Homo sapiens: one gene and its partner. The protein of the gene in region 2 purifies or fractionates together with the protein of the main gene of each other region. This does not show direct contact. Each region holds a gene or a part of one and is shown on either strand. Other genes may lie near its edges.

Region 1 (3,813 bases), on a different chromosome or scaffold from region 2:
TATCAACAGCTCATATCATGCTAACTAACTGGTAAAGGAACAGAACGGAAAACCCACCTTGTCAAATGATTCAAATTCTATATATGGACATTGTGAATGTTGAGAAAACAAGAAAGGATGAAATTCCTCATACCTGTAAAACATATTTATTATATCACATTCGAGAACATTAACAAACATCCAAAGCAAATTGACCCATGCCTATATGCTTACGTCAGTATGTCTTCAACTGGTTTATCTGCTTCCAAGCTTGGTTTTATTTCTCTTTTCTGAATGATATATCCCTACAAAAATGCAACATTAAAATCATTCCTATTCATAATTAACAAAGATTTACTTCTTTTTTTTTTTTTTGATACAGTCGCGCTCGCTCCATCACCCAGGCTGGAGTGCAGTGGTATATTCTCGGCTCACTGCAACCTCTGCCTCCCGGGTTCAAGCAATTCTCATGCCTCAGCCTCCCAAGTAGCTGGGATTACAGGTGTGTGCCACCATACCTGGCTAATTTTTGTATTTTTAGTAGAGACAGGGGTTTTGCCATGATGGCCAGGGTGGTGTCGAACTCTTGGTCTCAAGTGATCCGCCCACCTTGGCCTCCAAAAGTGCTGAGATCACAGGTGTGAGCCACTGCACCTAAAAATTTAGTTTCTGTGACTGATATTAATTTGCACCTAATCCAAAGGTTTACTTTCTATGACTGATATTAATTTTAATTTTCTATAAATAGTTATGCTTTGAAAAGGGAAGAAAAACACTCATAAGCTACTAGGTAATTCAAAAAATATTTAATGGTTGGGAGCTGTAAATCACAACATTTTTGAAAAGGGCTGACAAATGAAAATGTGCTTCTCTATCTGAAACTAAAGAAATAACTGTAAATTCCTCAACTTTTCTGAAGAGCCGATACTAACCTGACATTGTACTTTCTATAAAAGATAGGGAACAGAAAAAAACTTATAAACCAACAAAAACTTTTAAAACACTATCCTGGGCCGGGTGCAGTGGCCCATGTCTATAATCCCAGCACTTTGGGAGGCCAAGGCAGGCGGATCACTTGAGGTCAGGAGTTCGAGACCAGCCTGGCCAACACGGTGAAACCTCATCTCTACTGAAAATATAAAAACTGTCCAGGCATGGTGGCACGTGCCTGTAGTCCCAGCTACTCGGGAGGCTGAGACAGGAGAATCACTTCAACCAGGGAAGCAGAGGTTGCAATGAGCCAAGATCATGCCACTGCACTCCAGCCTGGGTAACAGAGCAAGACTGTCTCAAAAAACAAAACAAAAAAACTATCCTGGAATAAGCATATTACAGATAACAATTTTCCAAATTAAAATAAAATGTATATATAATGATCCTTTAATGAACGTTTAATTTCTGAAAACCCAAATAAATCACAACAATATATAGTAAGTATACATGGTGCTACCTTCCCACTGAAGTTGGATGTTGTTTTCATATAGTCTTCTGCTTTCTGCAGAGAAACAAGTACTTTTTCAATATCTAATGGTGGGGGAAAAAAAGGAAAAAAGGAGTGCCAATCAAGTGTCAATTAACCGTGGCTAAACAACTATGTAGAAAAACAGGAAAGTGCTTACAAAATAATGTTGCGTTCAAGAAAATTAGAGATAGTGATTTCATGTTTATAACCAGTATATGTGGATATATGGTTTCATTTTGAACAGCCTGTTGTCCAAGTAGCTTTTATTGAATCATCCACCTTTCCCTCCATGACCTGAAAGGAACTTTGTTCATAAACTAAATTCCCATATTATTTCAAATTATTTTTGGAATCTTTATGCTATTCCTTCTCCAAAAACTTACAGTTTTAATTACTATAGCTTCATATTTTAATCTGTGAAGGGTTACACAGACAGTAATAAATCATTACTAGTATTTTCCAGAGTTATCCTGAACATTTTCACATGCTTTTGCTCCATATAAACATCAGAGTCATTTTATAAAAACAAACAAAAACAAAACACCACCACCAGCACCTGTTGTCATTTTATGAGTGCACTGATTTAGTATATTGCAGAAACTAAAACATTCACTAAAATCTCATTCAATTTTTTTTTTTGAGAGTGGTGATACTTGTTTTTGTGGGGTTTTTTGAGATGGGGGTCTCACTCTGTTGCTCAGGCTGGAGTGCAGCTGTGCAGTCACCACCCACTGCAGCCTCAAACACCCAGGCTTAAGTGATCCTCCCACCTTAGCCTCCCAAAGTGCTGGGATTGCAGGCATGAGCCAGTGTGCCTGGTCAAATGTTTTTCATTCTAGAACCACCTGCTCCCTTATTACTTTCCCAGAAAAAATTTTCATAGTTTAAAAAAAATGAAATAAATGAAAAATGTACCATGCAGACATACCTTTAGTTTCAAGTTTTTCATCCACTTTGACATTACCCGAGAATCCATTTTCTAAAAGACAGTGTTCAATGAGAGCTGGTCCATAGGCTATAAATGCAGAGGATATTACTTTTAGTATTTTCCTATAAATTCTTTTTTGTTTTTGTTTTTTGAGATGGAGTTTTACCCGTCGCCCAGGCCGGAGTGCAATGGTGCAATCTTGGCTCACTGCAACCTCTGCCTCCCACCTCCTGCCTCAGCCTCCTGAGTAGCTGGGATCACAAGCACCCACCACCATGCCCAGCTAATTTTTGTATTTTTAGTAGGGACAAGGTTTCACCATGTTGTCCAGGCTGGTCTCGAACTCCTAACCTCAGGTGATCCACTCACCTCAACCTCCAAAAGTGCTCAGATTACAGGTGTGGGCCACCATGACCTAGCCTAAAATTTAACATTCAAAATATAGCACAAATTTATTTCCCAATATCAATGATCTACTCAATAACAGTGGCTGGTGAAAACAATAAGTTTACTTATTTTGAAGTGTTACTTAGAAATGACAATTCTAGTTCTTAGACTGGGTGCGGTGGCTCATGCCTATAATCCCGGCACTTTGGGAGGCCAAGGCAGGCAGATCACCTGAGGTCGGGAGTTGGAGACCAGCCTGACCAACATGGAGAAACCCCATCTCTACTAAGAATACAATAAATTAGCCAGGCGTGGTGGCACATGCCTGTAATCCCAGCTACTCAGGAGGCTGAGGCAGGAGAATCACTTGAACCCGGGAGGCGGAGGCTGTGGCGAGCCAAGATCGTGCCATTGCACTGCAGCCTGGGCAACAAGAGTGAAACTCCGTCCCCCGCCCCACCCCGCAACCAAAAAAAAAAAAAAAAATGACAATTCTAGTCCTTAAAGAAATTTGAAACTACAATTAACTTACAAAAGTCAGTGCAAGTTATAGGAATTTAATGGGCTTCAACCACAATGAGGATTTATCCCTGGAATGCAAGGTTGGTTTGGCAACCAAAAATTGGTTAATATAATACTCCATATTGATAAAATAAAGGAAAAGAGCCATATATCATTTCAATAGATGCAGAAAAAGCATTTGACAAAATTCAACACTAATTCCTAATAAAAACTCTCAATAAACTAGGAATAGAGGGAGCATTCTCAACCTTATAAGGACACCTATGAAAAACCTACAGCTAACATGATAATTACTGGTGAAGGACTGAATATTATCCCCCTAAGATCAGGAACAAGGAAAGAATATTCAGTCTCACACTGCTATTCAACATTGTACTGGAAGCTATAGCTAGCACAATAAGGCAAATTAATTAATAGCATTCAGATTCTAAAGGAAGAAGTAAAGCATCCTTATTCACAGATGACATGATCCTGTACCTTAAAAAATCCTAAGGAACCCACAAAAAAACCCTACTAGAATGAATAAACAAGTTTA
Region 2 (3,813 bases):
GAATGGTGACAAAGGAACATGAAATTGTGAAAGGGTCAGTCTCTACTTATTGAAAGATTACCCACAAGTAAATTGCTAAAGACTGTCTGAATGGCAGTGAGTGATTCATGGTGGGAAGCAAAAAGTGTTATTCTGTAAGCTGAGCGATATTGCCAATGATATTCCCTTTCACTTCCCAGTCACAAATGTAGAGAAAGACAGATAAGTCAGTTTAATGTTATTGGAAAAGAAAACTTTGAAGAAAGTAGCACCTATCGAATGCCAACTCTTTTAGAGATTTCTTATGTCTTTGACATACAGGAATTTATATCCTGCACTTATCTATTCTGTGCTTCTTAATCAGGAGTGTATTCGAACACTGAGGTTTTTTTTTTTTTTTTTTTTTTTTGCTCTTGTTGTGGTAAGAGACAAGAGTCTTACTATGTATTTTTAGTAGAGACGGGGTTTCACCATGTTAGCCAGGATGGTCTCCATCTCCTGACCTCGTGATCTGCCCGCCTCAGGCTGGACTTAAACTCCTAGGCTCAAGCAATCCTCCCACCTCAGCCTCCTGAGTAGCTGGGACTACAGGAACATGCCACAGTGCATGGCTTCAAGAAAATATTTTTAACCATACATGTTCAGAACTTATTAGATCTATTACATCAAAATCCTCAGGGGAAAGCCTACACTTGTAGACTTTTAACAAAATTTCCCCAGGTCATTGTAATGCACAATTCTAGCTGAGAATTACTGCAGCAGACAATCACTTCAGTTTCATCTCTCACCCACATGGCCAATATCCTTTATCAGCTTGGGATGTGGCCAGAGAGGAGTATGAGATAGAGTTATGTATTAAAATTCCAGTTAATTTTCCTGGGTGTGGGTATATCAGGGACAAGTAAACTCAAAATCCCAGTTGATTTTGCTATTTATAAGCTGCTTATCTCCCACCTTCTCATCAAGATATTCTAGATTTGAAAGGAGAGTTTAGACTCTTATCTAAGTTGCTGTTTTTGCCGGGATGGGTAATAAGTCAGTTACTAATTTGTTCCACCCTTTGCTGAAGTGTTTCTCACTTCATCACCGTATATTCACTGCCAATCTGGTTTCCTCAGAGTCCTCTAAAAATTAATCTTTAGGCAAGTTTCGGTCACTCTTTTTACCAAACCAAAAATGATTACCCCAAAGCTGAAGAGCGCTTTGTCTCAATACATAAACTGGAAAAACAACAAACTAAAAAACAAAACCTCTTCTTGGCATTTTCCCTCATTACCTAATTTCCAAGTGACCTGCATGTTTTTGATTGCTCTCCTTTTCCCTTTCTATTTTTCCCTGTTAAACCTTGCCCATGAAAGATACATCCATTTTGTTAGAAAACCGTCAGCAGCAGCAAGACTTCCATTTATTGTAAGTTGCTTTAGTTTTGAGTTTTAAGATAAAGCCTATTTCCAGGGTAATTTTTTCCCTGTGCTGTTTTTACACTAATTAGAAAAAAAATACACCTGGGGTAGGAAACAAATACTTGAAAAGAAGAAGTTTTACCTTAACAAATTCACAAATACTTCCCATACGTGCACTAAAATAGCTGTGCCCTCTAATGCTTCTTTAAAAGTATCAATATTTAAAGTAAAATTTTAGACAATTATTTCAAGACATTTTCATTCAGGAATACTTGAGTTCCAAATATGAAAAATTGACTCTTAACTATGTCAATATTAAAACAAACATTTTGAAAAGAAAGTTGATTGATCTGTACCTTGTTTAGTGCTTCAATATTTGCATGGTGGGAAAGCAGTCTTTCTGCCAGTGAAGTCCCCTTATTATACACGGCATAATGGAGAGCAGTGTTGCCGTAGATATCCTCAATGTTTGGATTGGCGCCACATTCCAGGAGAACGATGGCACAAGCCTCTTCCTGGCTGTGTACAGCCTATTAGTGTTAGATAAAAAACTAGACTATAAATTCTAAGAATTCAAAATACATATTCCACAGGTTTCACCAACTAGCTATATTTAAATGAGACAAATTCATTTTAATTCTATGTATTTAAATCAAATCCATTTCATGCTGAAAGAGTTGGCTACTATATACCTTCATTAAAGGTGTCCTGTTTAGTCTGTCACAGATGTCGATCTGGCATCTTCTGTGCAGCAAGAGAGTGACCACTTGCACACGGCCATGGGCACAGGCCAAATGTAGAACAGTCCTAGGAGAGCGAGAGGGGTTTTCAGGAAATGTAGTGCAATATCTCAAAACCTACAATGGTCCATGTCATTGTAAACATTGAATGGCATTATTCCTCTGCCTTCAAAACAAATAATTTTCTTTTGAAGAAAGTACAATATTTATTAGCTCTTACTGCTCCCTACCTTAATGAAACAGCAGCCTATTTGGATAGAATGAGCTTGGTGTTTGGATTCAGCTTAACTAGGGCTTGAGTTCTACTTTGAACTCGGTCACGTACCAGCTATTGCTTAGCCTTTCTGTGCCTGAATTTCCTCATTAATAAAGATGACCACAGCAGCTAGCTCACAGGACACCACTGTGATGCTTAAATGAAAATCTATGTAAAGCATTTAGAACTGTTTCCAGAACAAGCAACAACTCAATAACTGTTAGACTTTTGTTTGTTGAGACACGGTCTTGCTCTGTTGCCCAGGCTGGAGTGCAATGGTGTATTTATACCTCACTGCAGCCTGGCACTTGTAGGCTCAAGCAAACCTCCTGCCCCAGCCTCCTGAATAGCTGGGACCACAGGAGTGCACCAGCATGATCAGCTAATTTTTAAATTTTTTTTTGTAGAGTAGGAATGTCACCTTGTTGCCCAGGCTGGTCTCAAACTCCTAGCATCATGGGAACTTCCCACCTCAGCCTTCCAAAGTTCTGGAATGACAGGTGTGAGCCATGCACTCAGCCAGATGTTATAATTATATTACTAGTATTTAACAAAAATATTTTAATTAAGTAAAATGATACAATTATTGCTATTTTGCAGGATGATTTAAAGATTAGGTCACATTTTAGCATATCTGATATTGGAGTGGTATTTATAATTCATAATTTTTATATGGTAGCATTTATAATTGGTAGCATTTAAAAATCATCTTATTAATATAGAAAATAGTAGGGTATCACACAATCCATGAGGTCTTACATTAAGTAGAATACTGTATACACAGCAGGTCTAGGGCAATTCTAGGAATCTAATTGACACTTAAATACATTTTAATTCCTCAAAGTACCATGGGGAAAGAGCACTGAAATAACAACATATTTTTTAAACAAATTACTTCTTACTTTGATTTTTAAAAATGGGAAGCTGGCCGGGCCCAGTGGCTCACGCCTGTGATCCCAGCACTTTGGGAGGCCGAGGCAGGTGGATCTCTAGGTCAGGAGTTCAGGACCAGCCTGGCCAACATAGTGAAACTCTGTCTCTACTAAAACTACAAAAATTAGCTGGGTGCGGTGGCAGGCACCTGTAATCCCAGCTACTCGGGAGGCTGAGGCAGGATAATCACTTGAACCTTGGCAGCAGAGGTTGCAGTGAGCTGAGATCACGCCACTGCACTCCAGCATAGGCGACAGAGTGAGACTCTGTCGCAAAACGAAAAAACAAACAAACAAACAAAAAGAAACGTGAAGCTAAAGGAAACTCATGATTGAGATGAACAGGTATGGCTCATTTTAGTCAACACTTAGATTTACAGAATATATGCAAATCAGACTTTCCAATGATTAATATTAGTATTTAAGACTGATAAATTTTCAAAAGGGCAGTTAAAGGTTATCTCTTATTGTTTTCTACCTTCAGAAAGGCTTTTGCTTGAAAG

What was found. The genes of interacting proteins can lie anywhere in the genome.
Region 1: the proteins of ANKRD18A (region 2) and NEMF purify together in Homo sapiens (affinity purification with mass spectrometry; one large-scale study listed by BioGRID and IntAct). This does not show direct contact.

What each region holds. Positions count from the first base shown.
Region 1 is NC_000014.9:49,831,994-49,835,806, forward strand, and holds part of NEMF (ribosome quality control complex subunit NEMF), read right to left. Parts: intron 2,457-3,813; coding exon 2,370-2,456; intron 1,504-2,369; coding exon 1,430-1,503; intron 285-1,429; coding exon 214-284; intron 134-213; coding exon 58-133; intron 1-57. UniProt on the Homo sapiens protein: Key component of the ribosome quality control complex (RQC), a ribosome-associated complex that mediates the extraction of incompletely synthesized nascent chains from stalled ribosomes as well as their ubiquitin-mediated proteasomal degradation.
Region 2 is NC_000009.12:38,613,856-38,617,668, forward strand, and holds part of ANKRD18A (ankyrin repeat domain-containing protein 18A), read right to left. Parts: intron 2,190-3,813; coding exon 2,075-2,189; intron 1,913-2,074; coding exon 1,739-1,912; intron 1-1,738.